2 separate regions of the Homo sapiens genome follow, and region 1 is linked to region 2. Evidence: fine-mapped expression QTL. Tissue or cell type: whole blood. Region 2 holds a variant in brackets; the other region holds the start of a gene. All regions are shown on one strand. Distances are from middle to middle.

Region 1 (5,324 bases), 34 kb after region 2:
GGGGCCATCTCCTTTTCAGAGAGAGAGAGAGTAGATATTGCCTTGGTCCCAGTGCCAGACACAAAAATATGAGGAGGGTCCAGGAAGCACCTAGAAGATTTACAGAAGAGAAGGAGGCCAGAACCCAAGAGCAATTCCTGACCGCTTCCATGGGAGGAGGGGCGACTGGTGTCCCAGCTCCAAGGAGAACGGTTTGGTGGTAGACCCAGACGCTGGGAATGGTACAGGTCCTTTGGGGGTGGAGGAAATGAGGCCTTGAGATGGGAAGTCCCTGAAGCCAAGGCCAGTGCTCTGCCTGGAAAAGTAGTTGGCAAGAAAGCTCACTGCCCCAGAGGGACAGAGCCATTAGTCCCCAAAACAGAGGTTCTGGTCATTTGCAGGCAGAAGCCTGTGGTTCAGGTGTGTACCCTGAGAACTCTGCCACTAACCCAGGGCTTCCAAGTGGCTTTGGGGATGGGGAATCTTGCCTCCCCTCCACACTGGGGCCCTCCTCTGTGCTCACAAACTGCTCTCCCACCCACTCTGGGGATGCCAGGCCACTTGGTGCGGATCACTGCCAGGCCTTCCTCCACTACCTTCATTTCCAGCCACAGCCCAGGCTGCCTTCTCCACCAAGGGGTGGAATAATGGAACCCCTTCTGATTGCAACAAGAACCTTAAATTAGGAGCTGGACACAGAGTCCTCTCAAAGCAGCACACCTGTCATCCCGATAGTCCCCTGGGTCACACCTGCTCACACTGACATTTATTTTCCTGTTCCCTCTGCCCTGCAAAACCTCTCCAGACCAAGTCCAACTCATTGTCTGTGACCATTTTTCAGAGTCTTCCCTATCCCAAATTCCAGACAAGACTAATCTCCTTCTCTTGTTGGTCCCCGTAGCACTTGTTTTGTATTTGTCATGCAGCTTAATAACAGTCTGCCTTGCATGCTGCTCACCTAAAAAACCGGTGGTACCAAAAAATATCAGACTAAAAGCTACCGAGGACAGAACCACATCTCATTCACCTCCATATTTCCCACTGCACCTGGCACAGCTCTTCTCCCTTAGGTGTTCAGTGAATAAATTCATTCATCCAAGAAACACTGATTGGGAACTTCCTGGCTGAGTGACTCGGAGCTGAGCTGGGAACTGCAAGTGGGACAAATTTAAGGGACTGAATGTATTCGCCTGTCTCTCCACCACCTTTTCAAAATTGATTTTCTCCCCACCAGCCTCATTCTGTTGTGACTTTAGAACATCTCTGGTTGTTAACAGAGACATTTAATCATGCCTCACAGCGGGCAGGCCATTCCTGAGAGTCCACGGGAGGTCCTGCACAGGGATGGGAGGTGCACATTCCTGGGGGCTGGGCACGTGCCTGTCCACTCCCTGGCTCTGGTTTCTTTTTGTGGAGAAAGAAAAGTCGGTACTGGAAGGAACCTCAAAACGCATTCATTTCAAAGCTTTCATCTTGAAAACTTGAGGCTCAGGGGTGGCAGAGAACACACAAGCAGTTGGTCACAAAGCTCAAATGAGAAGCCAGGTTCAGAATTGCTTTTTTATGTTCCAGATGTTATGTGCACTTATGTAGGAGCTCAGCTCTGGCAGCAGGACATGGTGGAAAGGGCACTGCTGAGACCTAGCTGGCTCTGCGATGGATTCACTGTGTGTAAGGTTCCACCCCTTCCTGGGCCTCAGCCACCTCCTGGAGGGAGGGAGATGGGCTAGATGACATCTGACCTCCCCTCTTGCTGCAGTGTGTAGGGTCCAGAGCTCCTCTTCTTAGCATCCCAGCCATGCTGTACATTACAGCAAGGAATGGGAGACAGGGGAGGGGGCCTAATGTGCAATCACCTGTCCCAGTTTTTGTGGCTTCTGAAGTAGCCAGCATTTGCCTGTTGCATTTGGCTCAGTGATGTCTTTGGCCAATCTTCCAGCAGCCCTAATCGCCATTCACAATATTTTACAAGTTTGACTCATATCTTGTTTGGATTTGGCGTCCCTGTCAACCTACTAGGCTGAGCACACAAGACAGATAATAATTAGCATGCTGCTTAGCAGGGGTGCTGATTAACAAAGGCCCATATCCTCGACAGTAAGCATAGAGTGGGGGAACCTGCACTTCCTGTTGTTCTTTGTAACCCCTGTTCCCTGGTGCTCTCCTGTGGACCAGGACATCTTGTGGCACACCTGCTCCTGCTACGGGGAGGCTTCAGCTCATCAAGTCACTTACACAGAGCCTGTCTGATGCTTCTGATGTGTAGCTTACTTAGGAGCATTCCTAATGCTCCTAAGTAAGTTGATTTGAAATAAACAATGGTTTCTTTCAAATCAACTTACATGTTACCACTCTCACTCCCTGGTAGTTCTGAGATGTGCTTCTTTGCTGACACTGCTGACAGCTGGATACAGCTACACTGAGAAACACGAGACCCGAGTCCTGTCTGCTTTGGCTTTACGGGTGGCGACGGATGTGTAAAAGAAACGCAAACACAAACAAGGCAAAGCTTGTCCTCTGCCTAAGGAGATGCGATGTCCAGCTGCACTGAACACCCTGCCCATTATTCAGAGCTACATTCCAATGATGTTCTACCCCAAGAATATGCTAGAGGGACCCAACCACCACTGAGAAAGAGCCGCCTCTGGCTAGCACCCTAAAATAGGAAGTCTGGCCTTCAGAGCCCCCAAGGCAGGCAGCTGTCCTGGCCGGACACTCTGGCTTGGCAGGCTGGCCCAGGGGAAGCACAGGCTTCTGGCAAGGACCTGATGGAGAAGATGCCATGCACTCACCAGCCATGTTTCGCCTTCCTCTGCCTCTTCTCAGGCTCCTCTGGGAATGGCACGGACAGTGCTGACAGACAGGCTGCCAAGGATTGCCTTACCATTTATAGAATCCTCTCCTACACACCCCAATTAGAATTCTAATGAAGTGGGCGAGGCACCAGGTCATTCCTGTAGTGCCTGTAAACGTTTCACTTACGACAGACTTGTCACCCAATGGACGTGCATCATGTTTGTACAAGACCAGCTTGGGGAGAAGGGGGCAGATAATAAAGAAACTCAAATAGTTCGCTTTTATAATTTTATAAAATGATGGACTATTTCCTGGATTGTAGGGTTTAGGAAATGATGACATGCTTTTCTTGCTGATCCTGGGAAGTTCTCTCTGAATCAAAGAAACGTCTCAGCAGAACCCAGAAGAAGAAAATTGTGAGGTCCTTTCTCATGATACACATGTATTAGCATCTTCCACTTGCACAGGGAAGTGAGACACATCACAGTTCATTTGTTTAGGGTTGTAGTGTGGCATAAACCATCATTTGATTTGGAATTAGAAGCCGTTGGTTCTGATGCTGGCCGAGCCCTGGGTGGTCTCCAACCCTTGAAGCCCGGAAGCCTTGCTTGTGGTTGGGGATAATCACTCCCACCCCTCTCAACTCACAAAGCTGTGGACACGATCACATGAGATGGTGCGCATGGGAAGTGTATGCATATCTACCAGGGCAGGTTAAACTGAGATCACACTTGGCGTTGAATGTCAGTTTCAGTCCAGATTTGGGGGAAAATTGTTGTTTTTAATGAGGCAGCAGGAACAGCCTCTAACCTTATGCTTCTGCCATGTCTTTCTCAGACTGCAGGTTCCGTCACTGACCCTCACTGGGCCCACCTTGACATCAGTTTAAAGAAAGGGTGTGGAGTGGGGAGAAGCTCTGACATTCTACGTGTTTTTGTTTGCTTGCTTGTTTCTAAGGGCGTATGTTTTTTCAAAGTTCCTATTATCGATATTTACAAATATCAAGGTTTACGATGGACAAAGGAGTGAGTATATATTTTTTAAAGTGAGGCTTCAAGGATTCACGAGAGAACAGAAATGCCCCAAGGCTTTCCCCAGCATCACAGTGTGGAAGGAAGATTGAGCACCATGATGACAAGGTTGGGTCTTTAGAGAGAAGTGAGAATGTTTGATCTCGAGAAAGAGAAGACGGAATAGGCAGGTGGCTTGGAAAATTGAAAAAGAGAAATCAGTGTCCTTTCTCCGTCCTTTAGGCCCCTACAGCCTTTTGTACATCTTAGAACCTCTATTACCGTATGTATCCACTGCACTGGAACTATCTGTTTATATATGTCCCCATCTCCAGACTGAGCTCCTTGAAGGTACAGGTTGCATATCATTCAAATCTTCTTCTCAGAATCTAGCACAGGGCTTGACACGTGGCTGGAACATGCACATTCTTGAATAAGTGAATCAATATCACTGTAAAGATGGGAATCATAACTACCGATTTAGTGCTTACTAATAATAACTAATTGATTTAGTGTTTACTGTGGGCAGGCACTGGCTAAACACTTTACATATATTAGCTTTTCTCATCTTCATAGCAACCCTATGCAAAGGGGCTATTATTATTTCCATCTTATGGGGGACAGAGAGATTAACCTGAGTCTCCAACCACGAGATTCATACCCATATGTAAATGGCTCCAGAGCCTGTGTTTGCTTAACCTTGGAGGTCAGCGCCTAAATGAGGCAGCCTTTCCCAGGCCTCTGGGGCTCTAAGACAGCTGGCTGTGCACCCATGCCAGGCAGAATGGGATGCACTGTTGGCTCTGGCAGATGACTAAGAAAAGAGCAGAGGGTAGAGAGGGACATGGAAAGAGCCTGGACCCAAGAGGAGACTCATGTGTGGTCTTGGCTCCTACCACGGGCACTAGCTGTGACTCTGGGCGAGGCCTCATGACGCCAAGTTCATCCTGCCAGAAAGCTGGAGGACAGCTCCATGAATGGCATGGGATGAATGGGTGTGAAAGTGCTCTGTATGCTTCTGTGTGTGGTCTAAAGGAAAGGAGGGGTTTTGCTTATTATTGTGGTTGTTGCTGTTGGCCTGGGAGCCAAGGAAAATCAGACCCCGGGCACTCCTTTCAATGACCTGACAAGGAAAGCTGCAGAGGTGACAGGGAGGTGGTGCTCCCCTTAAAAGGGAACCTGAAGACACACAGTCTTGGCTCTGCCAAGTCTCCTCACCTCTCGTAGGCTTTGTTTCCTCAACTGTAAAACTGAGTGGAATTGCTCTGAGAATCAAAGGAGACAGCAAGTGTAAAAGGTTCAGCACGGCGCTGGGCACAGCCCAGTGTAAAAAGTTAGTATTAATAATATTATATTATTAGCCTGGCCGGGTGCGGTGGCTCGCTTCTGTAATCCCAGCACTTTGGGAGGCCGAGGTGGGACCTTGAGGTCAGGAGTTTGAGACCAGCCTGGGGAACATGGTAAAACCCTGTCTGTACTAAAAATACAAAAATTAGCCAGGCATGATGGTGCGTGCCTATAATCCTAGCTACTCGGGAG
Region 2 (5,000 bases):
CAAACTTTTCATGACAGCTTGAAGGATTTTACCAATGTGGGCACACCTGCATTCTAATCCTTCCACAGCACAACCTTTATCTGCTCCACCTTGTTCCCTTCCCATCCCTGCTACCCAAGGGCAAGGAGTCACTGTTCCTCCCAAACGCTCAGACTTCTAAGAAAACCTGTCACTGTTGTCAGGATTCCAGAAGGTCCACCCACCCCGTGGCAGCTGTGGGAGGGCCATGGGCCAAGGTTTAGGGTCCCGTGGTCATTGCCACCCTCCTGAGGTCAAATTTGAAAAGCGATTTGTTGTGGGAGTGGGGGTGAGGTGGGTAAGAACAATACAACATAGAAAACAGGGGGTGGCTCTGGACTCAGTATCAGGAAACCTAGGACCAAGACTCAGCACTACCACTACTATCTATGATACTTTATCTCCGAAGCAAGTCACAAATCTCTCCCAGCCTCACTTTCTGCTTCTATAAGATGGACACTGAAAATCTGCCTTTTTTTAGACGGTCAAACTGTGTGAGGTGGTATATACTTGTAAGGGATATTGTGCCATAGCTATGAACTGCCAAAGCCTCCCTCCTTCCTCCCTTGGGGCGTAAAAGGATTTTGGTTGGCACCACCCTGACATTTGGTTGGCATCACTCTGTTCATAGAGACAGAAACTTCCAAAGCATTAATACATGGCTTAACCACAGGGGCCGCTGGCTGCTCCATTCGTAGCTGACTAACCTGGAGCCCAGCAGACACCCTGCAGCCCCAGAAGGCCATTGGCTACCTCGGATTCGTGGATCTCCTCCAACTGCGGGATGCGTTACCTTCCTCAGGGTCCAGGGACATTGTGGCAGAGTCCTTCCACACTTCATGTACAAGCGTGCCGTTGTAGATGATGGTCCAGGCTGTCATGTTCACTGTCACTGTCTTCGTATCCCTGCTCAGGTTTTTGAGCAGTAGGACCAGGTTGACTTCTTTGCCTACTGCCAGCATGCCAGCGACCTTCAGCTTCCCGATGATGCTGGGCTCCTGTTCCTCTGTTTCCAAACCCATTGAAGACGTCGCGGCAAATGGCGTGTTGGGTTTAAGTTTCCCCAAAGCCTTTTGGAACACTTGTCTTTCCTGGTCAGAGCCTGTGTGGTGGGAAAAGACAGAAACATGCCAGGGATGTGATGGCAACCTGGGCAAAGGACAGTACCCTGCCTGGACAGGCGGCCTAGGACTGGTGCTGGCTCCATTGCTGCCCTAGCAGGCATTCGACTTTCACAGGTCTCCAGCTCGCCTGTCTTAACCGGAGACTCACAGACCAGTTGGTCTCTGGCGCTTTTCTAATCAGCTCTAAATTTCCCAAAATCTGTAGAAAAGCTTTATCACACCTGCACACAATTACTATGTGGCTTGATCATTTGCTTGCGTTAATTAGGTTAGATTCCATTTTTTTCTGATAAAATGTCTTTTGTGAGACTTAAAAAACAGATAATTTCAAAATAAATCATAAGAACTGAGCTGAAAAAGATTAGAATACATTCATAAGCCAAAAAGCAAGGTGATGATTTAGAACTGACTTAATTAAAAAATTTTTTTTGGTAAACCATGTTCTTCTGCCTTGTTTCTAAAGGTGCTTTGAGAGTCAAGGAGTGACATTTTGATCTGTGCCGGTTGACAAGGACTTCCCATGGTCGGTGTGGTTCCAAGTTATGACTAGTTGAAATTGTCCAGAGATTTCAGTTTTCAAAACTGCAAAGACTGGATAAAAAGATGGGTTTTCTGACTCTGACTCAGGCTATGGGTGCTGCTGAGTGTGATGGCGTAAGTAGCCCACAGAGAATGACAGGGATGTACCTGAAAATGGCTCTGAGGGCACACAGAGCTGAGTAACCGACTGCAAGCCTCTGAGCCAGGGCTGACTGAGCAGTTCACAAAAGGCTTGACCTGAAGATAGATCTAGGAGAAGGTGTTGACCTTCCAGGAACACAGGTACACAAGGAAGAGTGACCATGTTGACGTCTGCAGACCACACTTACATTCTCCCACCTTCCCCAACAACCTGTGAAATGCTTAAGGCACTGGATGACTTTCTTTTCTTTTTTTATTTTTTTTCTCTCTCTTTTTTTTTTTTTTTTTTTTTTGTGACAGGGTCTCACTCTGTCACCCAAGCTGGAGTGCAGTGGCATGATCTCAACTCACTGCAACATCCACCTCCTGGGTTCAAGAGGTTCTCCTGCTTCAGCCTCCCGAGTAGCTGGGATTACAGGTGCCCGCCACCAAGCCCAGCTAATTTTTGCCTTTTTGGTAGAGACAGGGTTTCACCATGTTGGCCAGGCTGGTCTCAAACTCCTGACCTCAGGTGATCTGCTCACCTTGGCCTCTCAAAGTGCTGGGATTACAGGCATGAGCCACTTCACCTGGCCCAGATGACTTATTGTAAGCATTTTACGATACAGCAAGCCCCTTCCCATAAATTACATGTGATTTGCAGAGACTTCAGAGGCCAACTCGTCCATGCCTATCAAGTTAAGGCCCTAAGAAGAGACACAACTTGTCCAGACCACTCTGAGATGGACTGGGCCAGTCATCTGCAGAGGCAGAGAGGGGGCCAGTTCCCTGGTGTCTGGACCCCTGGTCTAAGTTTCCTCCCACACACCCTGCTAAAAAGAAGGCAGGCAGCCAGATTACCTAAGCTGGTAGTTCCTGGTGGGCTGGGTTCCTTTTGATGCCTTCCCATCCTCTAGTCCAGCTGTAAGTTCAACCCAGAGCTGAAGGCAGTGCACGGATCTGAGCCTTCTGTGCCTGGGACCTTGAAGCAGGTGTGTTTGCACAATGAGGCTTGGAGC[C/G]TTGATGCCTATATAGGTCACCTGCTGGGTTTACTCAAGACTAAGCTTCCTCCTGCTGTTTTCTCCCTTTGCTGTTGCTATTGCATCAATACTTAGCAACATATTTTATGAGCTTTTCCTCTCTGGGGCCCTCAGAGAGAAGCTAGAGTCATTAGGTAAGAAGATCTGGGCAACATCAGGCAGGGTGATCTGTCCTGTCGCATAAGGGCTGGGGCATTGCTGGGAGTCCTTCAGGGACCCCCTCCCCCACCCCCACAACGGACCTGCCCATTCTCCATTGTTTAGGAAGTTTGGCTGAGACAGCCAGAGATCAAGGTGTGGGGTAAGGTAAGGAACCCCACAGGATCGTACAGTCATGTAAGCAGCGCCTGCAAAATAGTCACCTTGGGAAGTCATTGTTCCAGTGAGGCTATAGAGGTTCAAATTGATAAAGATCACCACTGCTATTTATCAAGTCTTGACTATATGCCAGGCATTGCACTTGGCACTTTGTATACCTTAGCTCATTTAAATCCCGCTGAAGACAGGCATTGCTCTTCTCATTCTTCGGGTGAGGAAGCGAGGGCTCAGAGATCAGAGGAAACTTGCTCGAGGTCACACAATTATGGCTGGTAGGGCTAGAGTTCACCTTCCGCCCCCGAGTTTTTGCTCCCTGACCCCCTATGCTTGTTTCTACGTCATAACATTGTTGAAAATACTTGTCCTACATCCCCACACCTCCAGCCCATCTGCAGTGTCCTCTGTTGCATCCCCAAGGCCCAGCATGAAGCAGGCACTCAGTATGGGGCTCAGAATATGTTTATTGACTGAGCAAAGGTCTATCTGAGCTCAGTCCTGGGAATGACCTGCAGAGGAAGACTGGGGCCAAATTGAGGCCACCAATCTCATAACCCTAAAACTGTGCCTCCAAATGTTCACAAATACCAGCACCTGGGGGGGCACCCACTTGGACTTGAAGTCAGACCCCATCACCTGCGCTCAGCTTTCCTTTTTTGTAAACTCGGCCAACACCATTAGCCAACCGTCACTTAGAGATTCAGGGCTTACTTTGTGGGTACTGTGTGCACCTTTATGAGGATGCTTTTCTTGACCCCTCAGAACCAACTGTGAAGATCAATGGAATGAGCAATTTCAAAGCATTTTAGAAAGTGTGAAATGTTGACCCCATTTAGGAGTGACTGTGGCCTGCAAGAGCAAGCACTAAATTACTTTTGGCTGTTTCTAAAAATGAACTTTGTCTTCAAATGCAGAACTTTTATCATCATTGAGAATGCTCCAAGAGATGCGCTGCTGGTTTCAAAAGAAACTCTGGGCAGTGAATATAATTGAGTCGAGGCAGCCTCGCAGCAACTGGCTTTCCAAGGTGACTTCAGGGGGACGAGCAATGTAGCATGCCTGAGATTTCAGGAGCTCAGGCATTCACACCATGTAATCACACCTCATCTGGCTTCTTGGGAGACCTCCAAATGTGCACAGTGCAAGCTCAGGTCTCTGGGTTTCTTTGTCCCTTTCTTCGTTCAGATGGTTTTCTCCCTGAGTTTCTCAGAGGCTAAGGGAGCAGACTGATGGAGAAATCTCTCCCAAAGCCCTTGGGGGCCTTTCATGGGGGCCATGTCTCTCCCTGTGATGTTCAGTCACGGTGCTGTCACCCTAGCTGTGTAGTTGAGACAGGGACACAGCTGGAGATGGGCTGGGTTGACAGCCACCTGTGCCCTGCAGCAAACTTCCACTGGCACAACAGCTGCCCGTGATGGTTTTGTTCCCTCCGGAAACAGTCCTGGGAGGTGGATGTTAGGTGCTAGGGAGCAATCCTATCATTCAGGCAGAACTGGCTGCCAGTGCGGGGGAGGTGAGGACTTTTCTCCTCTCCAGCCTCAGAGCCATCCTCCCACAATAGAACCTCTCGCGGCACTGCCCCGCCAGCGTCCCTCCTACCTTCTGGGTACTTGTACTTGTCCGTGACGTCCATGCGAGCATTGCTGCCCACCGCCTTGGTGCTGATGTACCTGCCAATGGTGTGACTGTTCACGGAATTCTTCCACTGTTTGCCAGTGGTGTTGTCGTACAGCCAGGTGATGCGGTCGGCATTAACCTCCGCGAAGATAAAGGGCATGTCGAAGTTCAGCTGCACATCACCCTCTCGAACACCAATGACCGAAGCGGGGCCGCACTGGAACAC

Evidence for each region. PIP is the estimated chance that this variant, and not a neighbour inherited with it, causes the effect.
Region 1: TGM3 starts here. The variant in region 2 is fine-mapped to the expression of TGM3 in whole blood (TOPMed, PIP above 0.99).

Annotation. Positions count from the first base shown.
Region 1 is chr20:2,293,518-2,298,841 of GRCh38, reverse strand. It overlaps TGM3 (transglutaminase 3), which reads right to left and starts at 2,841. Exons shown (of 13, transcript NM_003245.4): 1 at 2,772-2,841. The coding sequence starts at 2,778. LOC105372503 (a long non-coding RNA gene) reads left to right here. Exons shown (of 3, transcript XR_937203.3): 2 at 1,552-1,650; 3 at 2,348-3,021. RefSeq lists enhancers at 1,071-1,603, 1,604-2,137.
Region 2 is chr20:2,328,122-2,333,121 of GRCh38, reverse strand. It overlaps TGM3 (transglutaminase 3), which reads right to left. Exons shown (of 13, transcript NM_003245.4): 9 at 4,757-5,000; 10 at 812-1,120. Among named protein-coding and RNA genes, the nearest start is that of TGM3, 35 kb to the right of the region's middle. RefSeq lists an enhancer at 2,573-3,155. The variant C/G (reference allele first, on the strand shown) is at 2,822.